Regions from separate parts of the Homo sapiens genome. Here all the other regions are linked to region 1. The links come from fine-mapping of genetic effects on gene expression. A gene starts in region 1. Each other region holds a variant in brackets. All regions are shown on one strand. Distances are between the middles of the regions.

Evidence for each region.
Region 2: its variant is fine-mapped to the expression of C9orf72 in whole blood (TOPMed, PIP above 0.99).
Region 3: its variant is fine-mapped to the expression of C9orf72 in monocytes after Pam3CSK4 (Quach 2016, PIP 0.95).

Annotation. Positions count from the first base shown.
Region 1 is chr9:27,569,381-27,577,644 of GRCh38, forward strand. C9orf72 (C9orf72-SMCR8 complex subunit) reads right to left here and starts at 4,101. Exons shown (of 11, transcript NM_018325.5): 1 at 4,051-4,101. RefSeq lists enhancers at 3,495-3,584, 4,183-4,710 and a silencer at 4,095-4,174.
Region 2 is chr9:27,594,824-27,603,087 of GRCh38, forward strand. No RefSeq gene overlaps it. Among named protein-coding and RNA genes, the nearest start is that of C9orf72, 25 kb to the left of the region's middle. The variant G/C (reference allele first, on the strand shown) is at 3,814.
Region 3 is chr9:27,530,926-27,538,288 of GRCh38, forward strand. No RefSeq gene overlaps it. Among named protein-coding and RNA genes, the nearest start is that of MOB3B, 4.8 kb to the left of the region's middle. RefSeq lists a silencer at 4,866-5,160. The variant T/C (reference allele first, on the strand shown) is at 2,529.

The DNA.
Region 1 (8,264 bases):
TCCTGCAAGCTCCATTCGTGGTAAGTGGCCTACACAGGTATACCATTATCTTTTATACCATACTTTTACTGTACCTTTTCTCTGTTTGCATATATTTAGATAAATATTTACCACTGTGTTACAACTGTCTATAGTATTCAGTACAGTAACAGTTGTACAGGTTTGTGGCCTAGGAGCAACAGACTATACCATACGGCCTAGGTACATAAAGGCTATACTATCTAGGTTTGTGTAAGTACACTCTATGATGTTTGCATAATGACAAAATCGCCTAATGATGCATTCCTAAGCAATGTGTGATTGTACTATAATTGAAGACTTGTTATCTAAGACTGAAAGTAAAAAGAATTGCAATTTCACCTAAGCAAGTCTAAAACTGTGAAGTCTATTTATAATAATAGCAATACAAAGCAGCTAATAGGCAAACTATGATATACCTATCTTTGCCATATGATTGCTTTGGGAGCTAACATTTGATCTGTAAATGTATGACAAAGTAAACAATTTTACTTAAAGAATTTCATCCACATCTTGTCAAGAGAGTTCAGTCTGATGGAAAGCACTGACTTCTATTTACAGAGCATTAGATGAGTGCTTTTATCATATTATGAGTAGGCATACAGAGCCTGGCAAAACAGTTAACTCTAAGTATGTACAGAAATGGTTGAACACAACGACAGTTTTAACACGTGTATTTGTAATTTCAAAAATTCATTTAGGTAATATTTACTTTTAAATATGTTGTATCAATTTAATAGTCTTAAGAGACAGCACTAGATATAAGCCGTACAGCTTCTTTAAAATATCCACTGTTTTTAATACAATGTAAGCAGTCAGTTTACAATGATCAAATATAGGAATGTAATCTGAATTGAAATGGTAATGACACTACTGCTGTCATAACTAACAACAGCAAACTGGAGGCCAACATAATGAATTAAGTTAACATACAACCATAAAATTATATTGCAAACATATTTTTCTTTCATTCTTTTAGGTTAAAAAGGTGGATAATCATAAAGGCAATATTACAACTCTAATATTTCATCATTAAACTGAAAATAAAAGTATTTCCTAAAACAGAACTGAACCCTGGAGCAAAATCTGATTGAATTATAGGGAAACTTTTACCACGTTGTGAAAATTGAACTATTATACTGCTAGTTACACTCTCACTCCTAACAGAATAAGAAAAAAAAAATGGGCCGGGCATGGTGGGTCACACCTGTTATCCCAGCTCTTTGGTAGGCCGAGGCAGGTGGATCACCTGAGGTCAGGAGCTCAAGACCAGCCTGGCCAACATGGTGAAACCCCACCTCTACTAAAAATACAAAAAATTAGCCGGGTGTGGTGGTGGACACCTGTAATCCCAGCTACTCGGGAGGCTGAGGCAGGAGAATCTCTTGAACCCGGAGGTGGCAGAGGTTGCAATGAGCTGAGATGGCGCCACTGCACTCCAGCCTGGGCGACAGAGAGAGACTCTGCCTCAAGAAAAAAACAAACAAACAAACAAACAAAAAGAATAAGAAAGAAAATGAAGGACAAAGATCATACTGAATTGCTTAGTTTTAAATCCTACCAAAAGAAATAGCCTGGGAAATGAAATGTCACAGAGAAGTATAATCAGGAGAGCTGTACAATTATTTTACTAATACTTGAAGTCATCGTCTTTGGTGAGAAAAATCCATACATGCAAATGCAGCTGAAAAAAATCAGCTCAAAACCAATAGTTGTTTATGTACCTATCTTACGTACATGTAGTGCTGTCTACTCCAGAGAGTTACCAAACATTAGCCAGTCTTTTGAGGGAAGCCAAGATTCAAATTGAGTGAGACGGTGGCTTGCTCACAGGGTTCATGAGAGGTTTCCCAATACACTTTCTGGAAATAATCCCATACATGCAGACATGATTACATTAATTAACATCTGCTAAAACTGTTAGTAGAGTGCTAAGTTTGAGGTTTTGCTTTTTCTTTAAACGTCTGTTAAAAAATCAACCATCTCTTCCCTGATTGGTATTTAGAAAGGTGGTTGGTCCACTGCTATTGTAGTGAAAATTCTACAATCATAAAGCCCTCACTTCTTGTTTTTTAGAGACAGGGTCTCGTTTTGTCATCCAGGCTGGAATGCACTGGCAGGATCATAGCTCTCGGTAACTTCAAACTCTTGGGCTCAAATGACCCTCCTGCCTCAGCCTCCCAAGTAGCTAGGACTACAGGTGCACATCACCACGCCCGGCTAAGTTTTTAATTTTTTGTAGAGACAGGGTCTACGTTGCCCAGGTTGAGCTTGAACTCCTGGCTTCAAGTGATCCTCTTGCCTCCGCCTCCCAAAGCTCTGGCATTACAGGTGTAAGCCACCTTCTCCAACCTGGCTCTCAATACTTGTAACCATGCTGTTTATTTTCTCCCAGCCCAAAGAGAAGCAGGATCCTAAACCGTCCACTTTCCACAACAGGAGCTGCCCAGGACCACTTCAAGGACAGTGAACTGTTTACAGTACCAGAAAGTTCACAACACTTTCTCAATCTTCAACATCAGGGAAGACTGGAAGGTGAAGTTCATATCACTATCTGGCCATTTCTCACAGTTCCAAGTTTCTCAGACAATAGGTAGGCTAACCTAGTCCTCCTGGGAACTATCTAATTAACGTAGAATAGAACCCGAGGGCAGACTTGAAAAACAGAAGTCCTCCTTGGTTTACTTTGTTTCTCTGAAAGCAAATTGTGGAGTGCCAACATAGCCAAACAAAATATTTTATCAACTTCATAAGGTGCTTGTAATTTTTTCCTGGAGCAGGTAAATGCTGGCTTAGTGAACAATCTGGAATGTGGTAATTACTCTCGTTCTTGTTTCAGATGTACTATCAGCATGTAGCAGTTTCCAACTGATTCAGGGTTTTCCTAAAGTGGCAGGCCTTGGCAGAGGTGGTGACAACAATGCCCGTGTCAAATGACACCGTATTTCAAGTATTCTGACTCCAGGTTATTAATATCCCCTATATGATAGTCTTGTTTCTGTGATATTCACAGATTATGTTAAAAGTTTCCCAAAGTCTGAGAAAAATCATATCTTAACAGTATCTTTTTTTTTTTTGATCCTTTGTACAAAAGTAGAAGTAATGCCAGACAGATTACGTACCCTTGTTGTGAACAACTGGTGCATGGCAACTGTTTGAATAGAAATTTACCAACTGCCACAACCAGGCAACTACTCTCCCAGAGCCTAACAATCTCGATTGCATCTGAAAGGGCCACCCCTCCTGGGAAAGTGCAGGACCTCCCTCCTGTTTCTGAATACAAAGCCTGGTGGTGTTCAACGCGGCCAGATAGACCCAATGAGCACACGGACATGTAATCTGTGCACTTCTTTAGACAACTGATTACCATCAGTCAAGTGATGCCCAAGTCACAATAGTCACTTCCTTTAAGCAAGTCTGTGTCATCTCGGAGCTGTGAAGCAACCAGGTCATGTCCCACAGAATGGGGAGCACACCGACTTGCATTGCTGCCCTCATATGCAAGTCATCACCACTCTCTAGAAGCTTGGGCTGAAATTGTGCAGGCGTCTCCACACCCCCATCTCATCCCGCATGATCTCCTCGCCGGCAGGGACCGTCTCGGGTTCCTAGCGAACCCCGACTTGGTCCGCAGAAGCCGCGCGCCGCCCACCCTCCGGCCTTCCCCCAGGCGAGGCCTCTCAGTACCCGAGGCTCCCTTTTCTCGAGCCCGCAGCGGCAGCGCTCCCAGCGGGTCCCCGGGAAGGAGACAGCTCGGGTACTGAGGGCGGGAAAGCAAGGAAGAGGCCAGATCCCCATCCCTTGTCCCTGCGCCGCCGCCGCCGCCGCCGCCGCCGGGAAGCCCGGGGCCCGGATGCAGGCAATTCCACCAGTCGCTAGAGGCGAAAGCCCGACACCCAGCTTCGGTCAGAGAAATGAGAGGGAAAGTAAAAATGCGTCGAGCTCTGAGGAGAGCCCCCGCTTCTACCCGCGCCTCTTCCCGGCAGCCGAACCCCAAACAGCCACCCGCCAGGATGCCGCCTCCTCACTCACCCACTCGCCACCGCCTGCGCCTCCGCCGCCGCGGGCGCAGGCACCGCAACCGCAGCCCCGCCCCGGGCCCGCCCCCGGGCCCGCCCCGACCACGCCCCGGCCCCGGCCCCGGCCCCTAGCGCGCGACTCCTGAGTTCCAGAGCTTGCTACAGGCTGCGGTTGTTTCCCTCCTTGTTTTCTTCTGGTTAATCTTTATCAGGTCTTTTCTTGTTCACCCTCAGCGAGTACTGTGAGAGCAAGTAGTGGGGAGAGAGGGTGGGAAAAACAAAAACACACACCTCCTAAACCCACACCTGCTCTTGCTAGACCCCGCCCCCAAAAGAGAAGCAACCGGGCAGCAGGGACGGCTGACACACCAAGCGTCATCTTTTACGTGGGCGGAACTTGTCGCTGTTTGACGCACCTCTCTTTCCTAGCGGGACACCGTAGGTTACGTCTGTCTGTTTTCTATGTGCGATGACGTTTTCTCACGAGGCTAGCGAAATGGGGCGGGGCAACTTGTCCTGTTCTTTTATCTTAAGACCCGCTCTGGAGGAGCGTTGGCGCAATAGCGTGTGCGAACCTTAATAGGGGAGGCTGCTGGATCTGGAGAAAGTGAAGACGATTTCGTGGTTTTGAATGGTTTTGTTTGTGCTTGGTAGGCAGTGGGCGCTCAACACATAATTGGTGGATGAAATTTTGTTTTTACCGTAAGACACTGTTAAGTGCATTCAAAACTCCACTGCAAACCCTGGTAGGGGACAGCTCCGGCACTGCGGGCGGGAATCCCACGGTCCCCTGCAAAGTCATCGCAATTTTGCCTTTACATGTAAGAATTCTCTCAAGCATGATTTTCACACTGGGGAATGTCATTTTTGCTAGTTGCAATATGTGGATGAGTTGTTTTTTTTTAACTTTTGAAAAACGTACCATTCTGTTTGATGTGTAAAAAACACAAAGATTTTTGAAACCTTGCGTCTTTTGGTCTGCAGGTGTATAGATTCCACTTACTACAGATGAGTAGCATTTACACCACTCAGATGTGTAAAAAAACAAAGGTTTTTTAAACTGTGTGCCTTTTGATCTGCAAGTGTGAGATGGCACTTACTACAGTGAGTAGCATTTAATCTTTTTCATCACTAAAAATCACACAGAACGTTTTAATCATTCACCGAGGAAGAAAGGGAGGAATAAATACACAAAATGGCTCTCAACGTCTACACCTTCTGCAGAAACAGACCCTTTTCCTACTGTTCTATGCTTTGTGAAAGTTGATCATACAAATTGGGTCATTCTTTTTATACCCAACTAAAATAGTGGGGGTAGGGGGTAGAAAAGCACTTAGGACAAATGACACTGCTCCCACAGTGTAATTCTCTCCAAGTCCAGCTGCTGCAACTGCCCGTTGTGACCTGAGACCAGTTTTATCTAATAGTTGCTAAAATGACCTGCTGCAGCTCTAATTTTATCTACCACCATCACTCACCAGTTGAAACTCACCAGCTCCTCAGATCCTTAATAGTGCCAATGAATTTTCTCAAAGAGCACTATGTAACATTTCTCTTTTTTAACAAAACCTCCCCCTTTTCTTTGTTGTGTGGATATACCGAAGACCATCTGATCTACATGTATGCCCTAATTGCAATTCTTTCTTCCCAAATAAATCACTTAATTTAGAGATTCATCTCTGTATTTTTATTTTGACTGACAGCTTATAACAAGTAGCTAGCATTTACCAAGTTTCTACACTGAGTTGTACTTCACTTATACGTGGAATTAAAAAACAACTGAATTTATAGAAACAGAGTAGACCCTTGGTTGGGGGGCTTGGGGGGAAAGAAAATTGTAGGGTAGGGTACAAAGTTGCAGTTACGTCTAATACATCTAGAGATTTAATGTACAACATGAGGACTAGCGTTAATAATTGTGTTAGTCCATTCTTACACTGCTATAAAGAAATAACTGAAACTGGGTAATTTATAAAGAAAAGTTTAATGGCTCACAGTTCTGCAGGCTGTACAAGAAGCATGGCTGGATCAGCTTCTGGGCAGGCCATAGGGAACTTAAAATCATGATGGAAGGCATAGGGAGACCCCAGACTTCACATGGCAGGAACTGGGGGAAGAGAGAAATGGGAGGTGCTACATACGTTTAAACAACTAGATCTTGTCAGAACTCACTATATAGTACCAAGAGGGGACTGTACAAAACCATTAGAAGCCACCCCATAATCCACTCACCTCCCACCAGGCCCAACCTCCAACACTGGGGATTACAGTTGAACATGAGATTTGGGTGGGGACAGAGATCCAAACCATGTTATTCCAACTCTGGCCCCTCCCAAATCTAATGTCCTTCTCATATTGCAAAATACTGTCGTGCCTTACCAACAGTTCCCCAAAGTCTTAACTCGATCCAGCATTCATTCAAAAGTCCAAAGTCCCAAGTCTCACCTGAGACGAAGCTAGTCCCTTCTACCTATGAACCTGTAAAATCAAAAACAAGGTAATTGCTTCAAAGATACAATGGGGGTATAGGCATTGGGCAGATACTGCCATTCCGAAAGGGAGAAATCTGCCAAAAGAAAGAGGCTATAGGGCCCCATTGCAAGTCTGAAAGCCAGCCGGGCAGTCATTAAATGTTAAAGCTCTGAAATAATCTCCTTTGACTCACACCCAGGGAACACTGATGCAATGAGTGGGCTCCCAAAACCTTGGGCAGAACCACCCCTGTGGTTTTCCAGGGTTCATCTCCCACAGCTGCTCTCATGGGCTAGCATTGAGTGCTTGCAGCTTTTCCAGGCTGCAGGGTGCAAGTTGTTGGTGGATCTACCATTCTGGGGTCTGGAGGACGGTGGCTGTCTTGTCATAGCTCTGCTAGGCAGTGCCCCAGGGGACTCTCTGTGGGGGCTGCAACCCCACATTTCTTCTCCTTGCTTCCCTAGTAGATGTTCTCCATGAGGATTCCACCCCAGTAACAGGCTTCTGTCTGGACATCCAGGCTTTTTCATACATCCTCTAAAATCTAGGCAGAGCTTCTTAAGCCTCAACTCTTGCATTATGTGCGCCCGCCGGCTTCACAGCTTATGGAAGCCACCAAGGCTTATGCCTGGCACCCTGTGAAGCAGCAGCCTGAACTGTATTCTTACTGGTGAAAGTTATCTGAGTTACCAGCTGCAAATCCATGTGGGTCTGCAGCAACCTCAATTCTTGCCTCCTCAGAAGAAAGAATTTGACCAAGAGGCATAAGGCAGAAAAAGAGACTGCGACAAGTTTCAGAGCAGGAGTAAAAGTTTATTAAAAAGCTTTAGAACAGGAATGAAAGGAAAGTACATTTGGAAGAGGCCCAAGTGGGCACCTTGGAGGTCAAGTGCCCTGTTTGACCTTGAACCTAGGATCTTATACACTGGCCTACTTCTGACATCTTGTGCCCCTTTCCCTTGGTCCTTCCCTAAGGGTGAGCTTGCCGCATGCATGGTGCCCTGCTTGCACTTGGAAGGTGAGCGTGTGCAGTGTGTTTACTGGAGTTGTATACATGCTTACCTGAGGCTTTCTTCCCTTTTCCGGTGGAATGCCCCCAAAGGTCATACTTCACCATTTTGCCTCTTAATGTGCATGTTAAGCCCACTCTCTCAGTTCCTGAGATCTTATTGGAAGCGCCCAGTTACCAATTTCAGGTGTTTCTATCTATTGAGAAGTTGCCTCTCCCTGGTGCTGGCTGCAACCAATTACTATTTTAGAGAGGCAGTATGACAACTGCCTGACCATCATCTGATGGTTGCCTGACATTCCTGGTGGGTGGTGGGGACTTCTCTCTTACCCCACTCATGCCTGATTAGCTACCTACTGTAACAGTACCTGGGCCCCTTTGAGCAGCTGGGATTCAGGGAGCAGAGTCCCAAGGCTGTAAGAGGGAGCAGGGGCCCTAGGCCTGGCCCAGGAAATGATTCAGTCCTCCTAGGCCTCGGGGCCTGTGATGAGAGGGACCACCATGAAAGCCTAAAATGCCTATTAGGAACACTTTTACACTGTTGGTGGGACTGTAAACTAGTTCAACCATTGTGGAAGTCAGTGTGGCGATTCCTCAGGGATCTAGAACTAGAAATACCATTTGACCCAGCCATCCCATCACTGGGTATATACCCAAAGGACTATAAATCCTGCTGCTATAAAGACACATGCACACTATGTTTATTGTGGCACTATTCACAATAGCAAAGACTTGGAACCAACCCA
Region 2 (8,264 bases), 25 kb after region 1:
ATTTCTCAGAGAACTTAAACCAAAACTATTATTCAACCCAGCAATTCTACTGGGTAATCCAAATATAAAATTTTTGTTACCAAAAAGATACATGCACTTGTATGTTCATTGCAGCCCTATTCACAACAGCAATAGAATCAACCTAGGTGCCCATCAACAGTGGGATTGTATAAAGAAACCGTGGTACATATACACCATGAAATACTACATGTCCATAAAAATAATGAAATCATGTTCTTTGTAGGCCATTATCCTAAACAAATTAACACGAGAACAAAAAACGAAATACTGCATATTCTCAATTATAAGTGGGAGCTAAATATTGAATACACATTGACATAAACGTAGCAACGATAAACACTCAGGACGACTAGATGGGAGAGGGAAGCACGGGCTAAAAATTCACCTATTACGTACTATGTTTACCACCTGGGTGATGGGACCATCATCAGCATTATGCAATATACCCATGTAACAACCCCGCACATTTACCCTCTGAATCCAAAACAAAAAGAACAACAACAAAAATGCCTCTTCTACTATAATGTAAAATCTATGAAGGGAAGAATTTAAAAAACTTAAAATATTTAACATTATACAAGTCATATGTGTTATATATATTTAAATAGTCATATTCAACTTAGTATGTTTATTCATTATTGCCTGCTTCATCCCTATTGAATGTAGTCTTGACAGGAATTTCTATCCTTTTTGTCTGTGTAGTTCATCAACGTATCCTCAGTGCCCATATGCGGAGTGAACAATTCAGAGTAATCAAGGACAACTCCAGCATTCCTAGTCTGAAAACTGGAAGGTTGAATTCGCTGTTCATAGGCGACAGGAGGAGTGAAGAGAGAAAGAGGGAGGAGTGAAGAGAGAAAGGGAGAGGAGCGAAGAGAGAGAGAGGAGAGAAGAGCTGCAGCCCTTTGGCAGCCCAGACCTGGGAGCTCCCGAAGCTAGGGCTGTGATTTGCCTTTTGGAGCCCTGAGGTTCCTGGAGTCTCCAAGTTTCCAGGCACCAATGCGTTCCGTTGCTGCGCTGCTTGGTGCAGCCACAGCCTTGCAGTGAGCCAGCACCCGTGCCAGCACCTGAAGCTGCCCATCCCGCTGTAGCAGCCATTGAGCCTGACTGTGTGCCAGACCCCACGCTCACTTCCTCACACATCCCTCACCGCTTCGCTCCAGTCTCTTTGGAGGCATGGGATCCACGCCAGTAGTGTCAGCTGAGCGCAGCCTGCCAGGATGAGTGGGCCCAGTGGACCCGAGCAAAACTCATGCAAAGGTGCCACCGCCACAGAGGTTTCTGGACAGAAAAGCAACACCCCCAAGGATCCCATAACAGTATCAGTATTTTTCAGTCAGGAGGAAATTGCCTACTTCTTGTTGAGCAGTGTTGCTAAGGGTGTATTTAGGAGTTGTATCAGTTTCTAGGGCTGCTGTAATAAATTTACTACGAACTGTGGCTTCAAATAACAGCAATGTATCCTTTCACAGTTTTGCGGGCCAGAGCCCAAAAGCAAGGTGTTAGTAGGGCTGTGCTCCTTTAAAGGCTTTAGGGAAGAGTCCTTCCTTGCCTCTTCCAGCTTCTGGTGGCTGCTGGAAGTCCTTGGTTTCCTTGATTGGTGGCCACATCACTCCAATCTCTGCTGCTCCAAATCTCACATCACCTTCTCCTCTTCTGTTATGAGGATACTTGTCATTAAATGTAGGGCCCACCTATGTAATCCAGGATGATCTAATTTCAATATCTTTGACTTAATTACATGTGCAAAAACCCCTTTTCACAGCTTCCAGGGATTTGGACATGAACATTTTTAAGTGGGGGGCCATTATTTGACCCACTACAAGAGTTCAAAGCCTTCTCGGGAAATACCATCCCTTACCCACTGACATGAGTCTGTTCATGCTGGGAGTGGTAGAAGATACCAGGACCTGAATGCCTTTGTTCCCATCTTTAACAGACACCACCCAAATTCAGTAATGGAGCAAGTGAATTTAGCACGAGTACATTTAATCTTCACACATATGTTGCTGGGTGCTAGAATTTAAAACATTGTTTTCAGCGCCCCCATTCTGACTGGTTCCCAGGGATGTAAGTCTCCTCAACACCCTGGCCAAAGCCTTACCTATTCTCTGAACCCCGCTCTGTTTTGTGCTATGGGTGGGAGGAGGGCATTACTTATTGACCTCCCTGTCCTCAATAACCTGGGTAACCGGAGACAGAGGAATCGAGCACCTCTATCCCTAAACCATCATGTTGGAAATTCCTTACTGAAGCAAGTCATTCACAGTTGTGTCTTCCAAACAGTGCAATTTCATTTGTGTGTTAGGACAGCAACTCTACTAGAAACTACTTCACATCAATAGAAACATCATTACAAAACAAGATCAATATTTCTGATTTTCATGCTTAGTGTTATTTTTTGAGAATGACCAGAAATTTTCATTTATATAGAGATATACTCTATTCTGATAATCAGAAAGAACAGATAATGACTTTGGAGAACATCAAGATTAAGGTTCCTAAGGTAAACATTTACTCCCTGGTCAATATAATATTAAAACCACTAGTACGTTTTACCTGAAAGAAAAATGAATCCATTTTTTTGGTCAACGAGTAATATAGGAAGTCCTATATCTGTTGCATTTATTTTTAAACTTCTTTTTAAGTATAAGAATACAGTACATATATGGAAAAGTATGCAGTTCATAGGTGCACAGCCTAGTCAATTATCACAAAGTAAACACATCTGTTTAATCACCATCCAGGTCAAGGAAAATACCATTGCCCACCTCACTGTCTTCAGGAAAGACCCCTGAGCCCCTTCTCTATCACTACCTTGTCCTTCTCACCAAAAGTAGCCGCTATCTTGATTGCTAAAAGGATTAATTTTGCCTGCTTTAGAATTTTATACTACATATATTCTTTAAGCTTTTAAAAGTCAAAATATCTGGAAACCACTCCTTTCATGATATTTCATCTCAGAGGTAGAATAATTATTTCTTTGTAGGTAACTCTCTGTCGGAAAGATGAATAGCTTACTCCATAAATCATTAGCATAAAAACTTATTTATAATTTACATGAGAAGTCAGTATGAAGAGTAACATTATGACCTTGTGGTCAACACAATCACACAAATGGAATTATTAAAAATAAAGATAAATGAACCATGGAATTTTCAATTCGTAATTTACCTGGTTCTCTCTGTTCCTGTCCTTCTCTCTTGATAGTAAGGTGACTTTAGCCTTTGGGACACAGTAACATTCTCTTGATTATTAAAAGTTTTTTTCTCTCTACCTGCTTGGTCTCTTGTTCATATGCAATTTTTCTCAACAAAAAGTGTTATTGTTTAGTAGTTAAAAAAAGAAATGACTTCAAAGTCAACAATATGTAGAAAGGCTTATATTTGGTGGCATATTTCAAAAATTATGAGTGACCTCAATTCTTATTAACACATGTAAGCATTATATTTACTCAATTCCAAGGAGAAATCAGGCGTAAGATGCAATGACAAAAGAAAAGGAAAGGCTGCATTGTATATAAAATCAGGTGTAGGTACAATCGAGTTTCACAAATGTTGAAATGTGAAGGGAAAAGTGCATCTTAGGATTTAGGAATAGTGCCATTTGCTGATGATATCAGCAGCGATATGGTCCAGAGGTGGCTTGATGTTATTATAATTTCCTCTAAAAATACAAAAAATAAAAATAAAAAGTTCAGGAAGTCATTTAGAAATTTACATTGATGTCCCTCAGCTGTCCCTAGAAGTAGGAACGAGTTACCCTTTAGACATAATGGGGACATTTGTGCGT[G/C]CTGTCATTTTAGGAGTTCTACAAAGCCCCACTTTCCCTCAAATGTTTATTGTCTACCATTCCTTTCTACTATCTTAAAAATCCCATCAAAACAAAACAAATAAAAGATAACTATGTGAGATGATGAATATGTTAATTTGCTTCACTACAGTTACCTTTTCACTATCTATATCCATCTTATAACATCACGTTGTATACCTTAAAAATACGCAGTAAAATTTATTTTTTAAAAAAGAATCCCATCTTTTTTTTTTTTTTTTTTTTTTTTTTTTGGATGGGGTCTCACTTTGTCACCCAGGCTGGAGTGCAGTGGAGCGATCTCCGCTCACTGCAAACTCCACCTCCTGGGTTCAAGCGAAGAATCCCATCTTTTGAATTAGTCCTTTGAACACTATTTGTACAAGATGTCTGGAAAAGGCAACTGGCTCCTGAATTTCTCCTCTAGCTTTCTCTTACTTCATTTGCATGGCTTAATTGTATATGTTAGCTAATTGTCATTATTAAAAGCACAGATCCTGACCTTAAGGGAATGAAGTGCTGGACAGATACCTCTTAATTTCCGCAACTGCAATCTCAGTTTACTGAGAATGGAAAACTCCCTCCAAGGCCTGAGAATTCTTGGTTAACACGGAGGGCATTTCCCAAGAGTGTAGAAGAGGAAGCCCAACAGGCTGAGTAAGCTATTTCTTCACCTTGTATATTTAAGTTAGAGTACTACCTCTTTTGTGTGAACTTTAGGGAGTGGTCAGTAAATGCCACTTATTTCAAATTGTTTCACTTTGGCTTGCTGGAAAGTAGATGTATTTTAGAGCAAGGTCATTTGGTATATTTGTAAAAATATACCAGACTTTCTTGATTATTTTCTTTAAATTAAGCTTACTTTTTGAAATATTATTTATTTTAAAGTAAGATTTTATATAAGTTCTCTAAATAGAATACCACTATCACTTCCCATAAATAGAAGATAAACCCATTTCCCGTTTTGGGAAATCGCTTAGAAGAATGAATTTGGAATTTGGAATCAGAAGACCGGAGTAGTCATCTCAGCTCTGCTACTTCTGTGTTTTCTGGTTCTGGGAAAATCACTTGACTTCTCTGAGTCCCAGTCTCTTCATAAAAAAAAAAAAAAAAAAAAAAAAGGGACGGGATAACAATGTCTTCTTTCTTTCTCAAAATGACATTAACTAAATCAAGCTGCAAAGGGAAATATGTGGTTCTTTTTATTTGTAAGCTTAAAGTCCAAGCAGTTATGACAAATGGGTTTCACCTGAAGTGCAAATGCCCATTTATTCCTAGTGGTTCCTGGACCCCTTTATTGAGAAGGGTTGTGATGACCTGCCCCAAGCAAGGGGGGAAGAAGGCTGCTACTGCATAGTTCACGCTACTTAACTCCTGCCTCCTCTTTACCGAGCCCTCTTAGCTCACCAGAATCTGCATCTCAGAAGCCACCTCCCATTCAGCATGAACTTCCTTTTTATAAGAGCCCCCAAAAGTCACCTCAGGTAAATCACACTCATGAAATCTCTTTTCAGCCTAAAACTGTCTCCTAAAATGAAGCCCTCCCAGGCCCTTCTAATTCTGTCACCACTTTCTCACTCCTCCAAAATAAACTGCTTTTCAGTCCAAGGAATTCTTTAGAGAGAGAAGAAGAAACAAGGATCTGCCCGTGTAATTCTGTTGTTCTATCACTTTCTTTGCTTCATTATGTGTCACAGAGGTTTAGCAAGTACTCTCCAGAGGAGGCTGGGGTGGAGGAAAAATGTGTGAGGCCTGTGGCCTAGTTACTGTTGAAGTCTTCCTAGCAGCTTGCTTAATGCTAATTTCCTAGGCTTTGCAAATAGATCCTGCAGTGGAAACTGCTACCAATAGTGACGTAGTTGAAAAACCATGGGCCATAAAAAACTATTTATGACACTTCCCCCTTTTTCCAGCTCACACTCTGGAATGAACCAGTAAACAAATAATTAACACACAAGCAAAATTATTCTTCTAGGGCTTAAGGCTCTGTCCTAGTAGGAAAAGAATACTGTAGAAGGAAACTTGACAGAGAATACTTCGGAGAACTTAAGTGATGTTTTGATGCCCACAGATTCTGAAAGCTGACATCAACATTTCTAATATTTGTCCATTACTGTTTAATATGATAGGTTAAGTGTTGCTTCAGGGAGCTTGGAATTGTTCACTTCCAAGAAGTGAGGAGGATGCTTATTATTGCTCTTATGACTTCTCTTTAGAATTTGCATTGCTTTTACCATCCACAAACTGCTCCTTGGTAATTTTTATTACTAACAAACCCATAACCTGATTGGTTTCTCTTGAAATAGAGGGTATTGTGAAGTCACTCAGGATACAGATATAGTGCTGATGGGATCAATTAAAATGAATTGTAGTCCAGGAAAAGGTGCTTTGTGAAGCACTACGAGTGACAAAGATGAGTTTAGAAATAATCACTTACTTTATGACCACATTTCATAGTCTTGCTCACCCAGATATTTGTGACAATCATATTCTGGACCTACATAAAGGGTGAGCTACAGGAAGACAAACTTGCAAACATTACGATTTGAAAATAATTGATGTTTACTAACAAGCACATCATCATTTCAAAGCACTTTCAAGAAAAAGCATCCTCTTTCCTAGACAACTAAAGAGGGCTGTTAATTCAGATGGAATCATCTGAAAGCTTTTTCTTATCACCAACTTACTTATTTTCTTTTAATCCCCTCCCCAATATAAATCATAGCACCTCTGGGTGATAGTATTTGAAAATGACAAAAAGAACCCAGATGTTGACTAAAGGCCAAGGTTAATTGGATATGTGTGAGACTGTGCTGTAACTTCTTATTGAATTGGGTGGCTGAGCTGTATAGTTCTTGTGGCATTATTTCAGGATCTGAATTTAGTGATTACATAAGAAACTTCTAATGCGCTAAAGCGTTTAATAACCCATGTCTAAACTTCCCTTCCATAACTTCAGTTTTCGTCCAGAATCTCCGTTACTCAGATCTTTTCAACGGCTTCTTTTCTGGCTGCTGAGGAACCCAGAAACTTCTGACTGGCTTTGAAGGGTTACTTCCCTTGCATTTTTTCTCTCCTTTCTTATCCTTCTTTCTCAGGCTGCTCGCTGTAATATCCCTCAAACTGGATCTTCTCCTCCCTCTGTTCCTTCTCCCCTCACCTTCATTTTATCAACCAATTCCCTATGTTTGACTTTTCTTTTTCTCTCTCTGCCTCTCCAAGTCATCAAGACCCATTCAAGGTCCATTTCTTCCAGGGATCCGGATTAGTCCATTCTCTACCAAGCTTTCCTTCCTCTAAAATACCATTTTTAAAGCCATGTTATCCAGTAGAAATAAAATGCAAACCACACAAGTAAGTTTGTTATACTGTAGAAACAGATCAAATGAATTTTGACAATATAGTTTATTTAATCTATCATTTCTACCTGTAATAAACTTAAGATTATTAATGAGATATTTCCATTTTTTTTGAAGTCTTAGAAATCTGGATTATATTTTATACTTAAAGCACATGTCAGTTTGGACAAGCCACATTGCAAGTGTCCAGTGTGGCTAGAGCTTACTACATTGAACGGTCCGGGTTCAGAGCCTGTGCCACATTCTCTAGCTCTCAATCATGTACTTCCTTATTTCATAGCTTTCTACCAGACCAAATTGCAAACAACTCCGTAGAGTTGGCGGCTCCATTTTACACTTCCTCTGTCTTCACATTTTATTCCTGTGTGTGTAGTAAGCTATTAGTAATTGCCTATTGATGGATTGGTAATATTAATTTTATCTGTGACCTCTTAAACACAGCATACTTACTCCTACTACAGTTTCCTCAGGCTTGAAATTTCCCTCCTCTTCCCCATATTTATATTATGATTCAATAACCAAATCACCTCTGTTTTGTTAGATCTGAATCTCTGTGGGTATGTTGGATGAGATTATAAGAAATAGATGTGCATTATTTGCAGTTCTATTGCACTAGAGAGCAGCATTTTCACAGAATACTCATCGTTCAGACAATTCAGGCAAAATAGGATTTATAGCTGAAATCAATGGGATAATTGCCTCCATTGTTCTTTTTTGCTTTCCTAACAGAGACCTGGCCAACTCCTCGTAAGAGTCTCCTGGTCACAGAATCCAACCATGAAGCAGAGGCCCTTCAATTTGATTACAATGGCAAAGACACAGTTTTATAAGCTGAAACTAAATCACTGGGATAGGAATAGCTTATAAAATTGCAGGGAAGGAAGGTCGTGAAGAAGAAAAGGAAACCCTGGAGAGTACAAGGACAGATAGGGGACCTGAAGTAGAGGACAAGATGAGGAGATTACTAAATTCTGTCAGGGGTGCTAAAATGGGGGGAGCGTGCGAAACATACTATAACTGGGAACCTCAGTTTTAAAAATATAGTTTAACCACCCACTTTCCTTTCATCTCTTC
Region 3 (7,363 bases), 39 kb before region 1:
AGCTCTGTTACCTCATCTTATAAAATGAGGATAATATAGGTAGCTGTCATTCAATGAAGGAATGCATACAACATGCTTAGCATAACACCTGTCACATGGTAAGTGCTCCAGGGTCACCACCTATCATTGTTTCCAGCATACAGTTATCACCCCACCGACATGTAGCCCCTCCCTCATGAGCTCAAGAGCCCCCAGCACGTGTTCTACTCACACACGCACAAGCTTCAGTGTCCCTTAAGATGTTATCTCCTGGAAAGTAGGAACAGAAAGAGAATATTTTCAGGTAGTTTGGAACAGAATGAATAACATTCACATTCCTTGCCCAAGTCAGTACAGATTAATTTCCATCATTTCCAACTCATACTTTATACATTTCCCATAAGAGGAAAATCATGCTGGTTTTCAGTAGCATATGAAAAAAAAAAAATTCCAAGAGGATTCTTTTGCCAAGCCACTTCATTACAGCTTCCCCTTAGAGGATACCAAAGAAGCACAGGGATATTGGAAAGGTGTCACCATAGCAACATTGTAATAGACAGATGACAATAGAGTAAAAGCGAAGAAAGCACATTTGCATAGTCATTGACAAACTTGGACCTACAGTCATATTGCTCTGGGCAGCAGTGCTCAGAGTCCAAGGGCTACTCAAAGTAAATTTGGTAAGAGGCTATTTCTATTCATTTTGGCTGAGTCTGACTACCCAGTTCATTGTGCTCATGTGTGTGCTAATTGTAATTGTTACAGGCAGTTCACTAACAAACAGCAGACATCCTCAAGAGTCCCTTTCATCCTAAGCAATGTGAGTTCACAAATCTAAATGTGTACCTAATAAATCTTCAATAGTAAAGCGTACTTCCTCCTTACCTGCTTCTGTTTTGTTTTCAAAACCTTAAATAGTCACAGGTATAGAGAAATTGTCTCAATGCTTATGGGAGCTTCTGTGATAACTTATGTTAATTAACTCTGGGTACTGAAAAGAAACAAACGTGCATGGCTTCCCCTAAGCACTGAGGTAATGGCAATTCAAATAACAGCAAATTTATATATGTGATATACACAGATTTATATATATATAAATATATCACATATAGATATATAAGAAGACATCATATATATATACACACACATTTTAGAGATCATATATATCTTTTAAGCAATTTCAAACCATACAAGAATCCATATATGATCTTAAGGCATAATTTCTGCCAGCATACTTCTCAACATTTATAATGACACTAAATGTCTATAGTCGTTTCCTCTGAAATGCACATTACATCAATCCCTTTTTGTGAAAGTGGAACTAAGGCATAAAAAGGTCAGAGTTCAGGAGCTGGGAAGAACATATGACAGTGTTCAAAGTTGTTTCAGTGACAGCTGAACAAGATAGTGTCATGTGGAATCATAATGGACAATTATCTGCTTTCTGGTCTATAGGAATAGAGTGAGTGTTCTTTCCCAAGTTTAAAAAAAAATTATTGAAAAGAGACTGTACTCTTTCTTCCTGCTCTTAGAATCTGTTTTGTTTATAGTGACCCAATGCTCCTTCATATCTATCAGATGGTATTTTTTTCTTATTTAAAAATACCCATGTGGTTGAGGCTGCAGTGAGCTATGATTGCACCACTGCACTCTAACCTGGGCAATGAGACCCTGTCTCAAAAAAAAAAAAAAAAAATAGTTTGTATCCTTAATAAGCGACCCTTCTTCTCAAGAGATGAGCCTGATGTTTCTGTCTGGCTTAACATTAGCCAGGTGTGGTACACTTGTGATCTGCCTCAGTATTCTGAGTAATGGAGAGGAGTTCTCTCACTGTGAAACAGGTCAACTTAGATACGATCCAAAAAGGGTTAGTTGCCAGGAGAACCAAAGTCTAAGGTAGTCATATCTACAAGCCCATAGCCTGGACCCCCAAATTAATCCTACAGTGAGACTTTAGCACCTTTCACAAGTGGAGAAATCAGACCACTGTGTGCTCAATGGGTTTGGAATGTTGTGCTTTCAAAGTAATTAATACAGAAAGGCATAGAAAGATAGAGAAGAGACTAGTGACTCATGGATGCTTCCAACGTGATATAACGCCCCTTTCTCTTCTAAATAGTAAAATAATGAAGATCTCAAAGAGACTTTCTCTCTTTGAGAAACACAGCTTTACTGCTTTTGTGATCAATGCCCACTGCCCTCACCAACAAATCAGTCATTAATTCCCAACTGCCTTGCATTGCAAATATAGAAAAAAAGGTTTTTGGATCTCCTTAGCTCTCTTTGAATGTCTATAGGAAAGAAATGAAGGAAGTAAACTTTTCTACTGCCAGACTGAAGGTAGATTTTGATAAACTTGGAACCTCTCCAAATCACCCTCTACCCTCCTGGCATAGAAAATAAACAAGATTTTTCCCTTTACATCATAATTAAGGAAAGAGACAAAAATGAAGGTATCATCCAACCTGATCTTCTTTAGCCTCTAGCTGTTCTAACGACACAGAACTATTTTCTCAAGATTCCAATTAGGTTTGCTATACTGCTCAATA[T/C]TAATTTCCTCTTAAGAAGCTACTTCACCATTTGGAAAGCCCCTTGGGTTGAATAATTATTGAATTTCTAAATGGCCTCTGGCTAGCCTCAATTGCATGAGTGTTTCATGTACAGTAAGTAATATGAAAGAGGCTTGCCTTGGGTATTGAACAGCCTCTAATGATGCTTTTCAGAGGGAAAAAATCCCTCTGAAAAGATTTTTGGAAAAGTTTCAGTTAAATTTTTCCCAAGTCTTCTTGTCTACTGCTCAGCAGAGTCTCTGTAGAAATGAATAGATAACTTCCTTCCTTCATTTTTCCCTTCCTTTTTTCTTTCTTTTATCCTGCCCTCTTCCGTCTTTGTTTCTTTCTCTTCTCTTCTCTGTTAGAGGATTTATGATAGCTAGGTAACTCATTAAGGTTTCTATCCAGTGTCCCAGAAGAATAATTCTTCTTTTTAATAAAATGAATTACATTTTCATTCCCTTTCCTTGTCTTTTTGTTTTCCTGTGTTCTTTTTGGTTTCTTTCAGCAGATGATAAACGATGTTTTCCTTTGAAATTGCTTCTCACTCCTGCTCAGACGGTCAGCATGAGAAGTCAAAAGGAAAGCATACACACTAGTAAGAGAATCAGGGCGTGGAAAAGGGTCTCTAAGACCCCAACCCCCAAGAAGGAGATGGAGACCCAAACATGCCAGTCATCAGTTTGAGGCTCATAGCTTGTTAGTTTAGAGCCAGATTTTGTACTTGTAGTTTGAGGAGCACAGCTTGTTAGAATCCAGATCTCATGGCTTTTAATCCAGAAATATTTCTTTGTTTGGGAGTTGTTTTTCATTGTTGCTGTTGGCCAGTAATTACGGTACTCTTGTGAAAAGGCTGTTTTATAGGTCAGTTATTTGGAAAGGCCGTTTTCCGTTTGTTTGGTACTGAATAAATGTGCTTGCCTTGTTCATTTGGCAATGTCCTGAGCTCCTCAATCTCTCAGTCCCTTCTTTTAGAAACAATGGTTTGCCTACAGGATGCCAGGTGCTTTTCTCAGGGCCCTGCTCCTGTTATATTTGATTTCTCTGTCAACCTTTTTACACTACTACATACGCCCAGAGTGACAGAAAAAAGGGAGAAGAGAAAGAAAGCAAAAGGAAACGAGAAAAGGAAGTTGAAAGCAAAAGAGGAAAGAAGGAAGGAAGGGAGGGTGGGAGGAAGGAAGGGAGGAAGGGAGGGAGAGATGTTGAAGATCACCAGTGACTTATACAGGAAAATTAATGATCAGATATCCTTTGTTAAATTTTAATACTGGCAGTCATGTCTGTTATTAGGGAATCCAAAAGTGATGAAAAGCAATCTCCCTTCCTTCTCCTCTGCTCTCCCCACTCCTACCCTACTACGCCCCAGGTTATACTTCACTGCATCTACTTGGATGATGACATAGGAGTCTGGCATTATGTTTCCTTAAAATTTGTCTGCCTTTTGTGGGGTTTGGTTGCCAACCACCCCTCTTATCCTACCTGCAATTTCCTCATTCCTTGTTTTATTTTTAGAAGAACACACCTACCCAGACACTCATTCTTTTTTACAAGTAGTCTAGTTGAAATGTGTTGACCTTGACCCCTATCGGCAGAACTGCTCAGCTGACCCATTGACTCTTGAGAAATAATAAGTAGTTGTAGTTTTAAGGTGCTACATTTTGGAGTGATTTGTTATGCAGTTTTATTGTGGCAATAAATAACTGATACAGATAATGTGGTGATCTTGATGAATACAAGAGTGCCTGGCCCGTAAGTAGACACTCAATAAATGTTGGACTGGAATGAACTGGCAAATAGAGTAAATTAATATTCATCAATAGGGGCTTAATTAAATATGTTGTGACATAGCCTAACAATGGAACACAATGCAGGTATTAAAAACAATGAATAAAAATTCAATGAGTTGATGGCTTAGGATTTGTATATTTGTCTGTGTATTATATTACATATCAGTAAAGAAAGCCTGTATACAAAGCAGCATGATAGCCTTTTAATATTAAAAAATCTACAATGTATATATTCATAGGAAAGTATCTGGAAGTACATATACCAAGATGTTGACAATGGTTCTCTAGGTAGAATCATAACAGGTTAATTTAAAATTTTTTCTATACTTCTTTATTTTATTTGAAGACGTTCAACTTTATTTTTTATAATAACAAAAGAGTAAGGTGATAAGATACTCTTTTCCTGAGTCCAGGACACATGGGGTGAGCTACCCTGATATGACATTTTCTCTTTCTCTCCCCAAAGCACAATGAAGATCTTGAAGGGCACACAGAGAGAGGGAAGGCAACAGAGGCAGGCTTTGTTGGACACCAAATGAATGTACTGAGCCATTGTTCCAAGACAGCTCTGTATTTTAAAGCTCAGCATGGGCCAAATTCAACCTCTGGATGAAATATGTGATTCTTGTGGCATTGTCAGAAGTGGCAAATGGATTCTCTCCTCCTAAATGTGGTGTGACTCTCCCATCAACCACAGGTAGCAAGTAACGGCACACTTGCCACGACCTCTACTGTCTGCTTTCTGTATCACTGCCTCAATCATGCCCCTCCTCTTGCCTTGTCTTGGTGAAGAGTGCCTGGCCAGCAGCCCTGCCTACCTCTCTCTTCTGGCCCTAGCGCCTTGCTCCAGCCCATGTGGTTCCAGCAAGCTCCACTTCAAGGGGCCCACCCTCCAGGGCATGTTCCAAGCATCACCAACCAGAGGGCTTCTTCTCTGAGAATTTATACATGGACCTTGAGGTCAGCAAGCAAGGATGATATAAGCCAGAGTTCTCTGCAGCCATCCCCTTTTCACCTCTCTCAGTTACGGATGAACTTATCTGTAAAATGGGAAAAAGAAACGACAAGAGAAGCACAGCTGAGAGAAACACCAAAAGAAAGAGTTGAAGACATTGTTTGAATTCCTGCATCCAGTAGTGCCCAAAGCCAGTGCCAACCCTGGAATTCCTAGCTACAAGAGCCAATGAAGTCCCTTTTGCTTTAGTTTGAGGTGGGCTCCTGTCACTTGCCACAGAAACTAGGAGAAAGCACAGTGTCTGTGCTGCAGTGAGAGAGGGCTAAAGTCCTCAGGGACAACCAATAAAGCACGAGAGCCAATGAATAAATACTTGAGGTGAGCAATTACAGGAGGCATTCTTTACATTTCTTAGAGAGCCAAGCAAAATTTAGCCCCAGTTGCCTGAAGTGGCCATATATATTATTATTAATAATGAATATAGTCAATAACCTGTAGGCAGCTCAGAAAAAATCTCAGTCATTAAGTGTTAAAGTACATTTGAGACCATTTGCCTCAGCATCTAGTGCAGCTCCGGATACACACAACGTGGAGGGCAGGGAACTAACATTTGGTGAGCACCTACTATGGGTTAGGACCTGTGCTGGACATTTTCACATACATTAGTTCATCTATTCCTCCCGAAGATCTTGGATGGTGGGTATTATTACCTTCATTTTGGAGATTAGGAAACTTGCCTAAGGTTCATACAGAGCTTCTTCGGTGCTCTCAATCATGACTGTTCCCTTGCATCCATCCCCTCTGTAAGAACTGAGATTAGCGTTTAGGGAGTTATAGCTGGTGCAGTAGACACCTCAGATGCCCTGTGTCACATCTCTTGACACATCTCTGATTTCAGTGCACTTATGATGTGGCCTCTTTCCCAGATCTCAAGCACGCAGCAGTCATTATTTCACTATCTGCCCCGGGACGGTTTCCACAGATGCAGGAGCTTGCTCAGCCTAGGAGAAAGCACAGTGTCTGTGCTGCAGCGAGGGAGGGCTAAAGTTCTCATGGACAACCAATGGAGCATGAGAGCCAATGAATAAATACTTGAGGTGAGCAATTACGGGAGGCATTCTTTACATTTCTTAGAGAGCCAAGCAAAATTTAGCCCCAGTTGCATGAAACGGCCAATTGCCAAATTCATCCTTATATTGACTTTTCCTCCTTCGTGTTGCAGGCTGACTGATCTCTCATTCCCACTTCCTGGAATCACCTCCCAAACAAACTAACTGCATACTAGTCCTTGTCTCAGGCTCTGATAGTGTGGGATTCCAAACTGGAAATGAAGACCATCTTGTGTACTGACTAGTGAAGGAAAACGTTATTGTTGTGAAGTCTGTAATAAAATAAGCTCAGCTTAAACCAGCAAGAGCAATTCCAAGCTAGGAACTATATTAAGAAATAGTCTCTTACATAGAACCCCCTTTGAGAAAATATACTCAAAGTCTATAACTTAAACATGCCTGGAAGGAAATACATCAAAATATTATTTATTATAATTCAATATATCATATTATTATATTAATTATTCTTCTCTTCTGAGTAAATTTTCAATGGACATTCCCCAGATGTTCCTCACTTCTCTTATCTATCAGTCTTGATCTGCCCCCTGGGGAATCACAATTCTTGTCACTGCAGTTAATAACCTTTTTTTTTTTTTTCTGTGACTCAAATTAGGTAGAAGATACTTAGCCATCATTCTCCACTTGGAAGGCAGCACAGCATGTTAGTTCAGAGTATGGTGTGGGCAACAAAAGAAGGTCAAATTCTAGTCATCTGGGTCACTTGGTCTGTCACCCAGGTTTTGCTGTGGAAACAAACAACTGCTTGTGATCATTAATTTTTAAATATGGACTAGGCTAAGGGATACCGAGATAGCTGGTAAAACATTATTTCTGGATGTGTCTGTGAAGATGTTTCTGGAAGAAATTAGCAGACTGAGTATAGAAGATCCACCCTTACCAATGTGGGAGGGCATCATCCAATCCATTGAGGGCCCAGAGAGGACAAAAAGGCAGAAGAAAAGCGAATTTGCTCTCTCT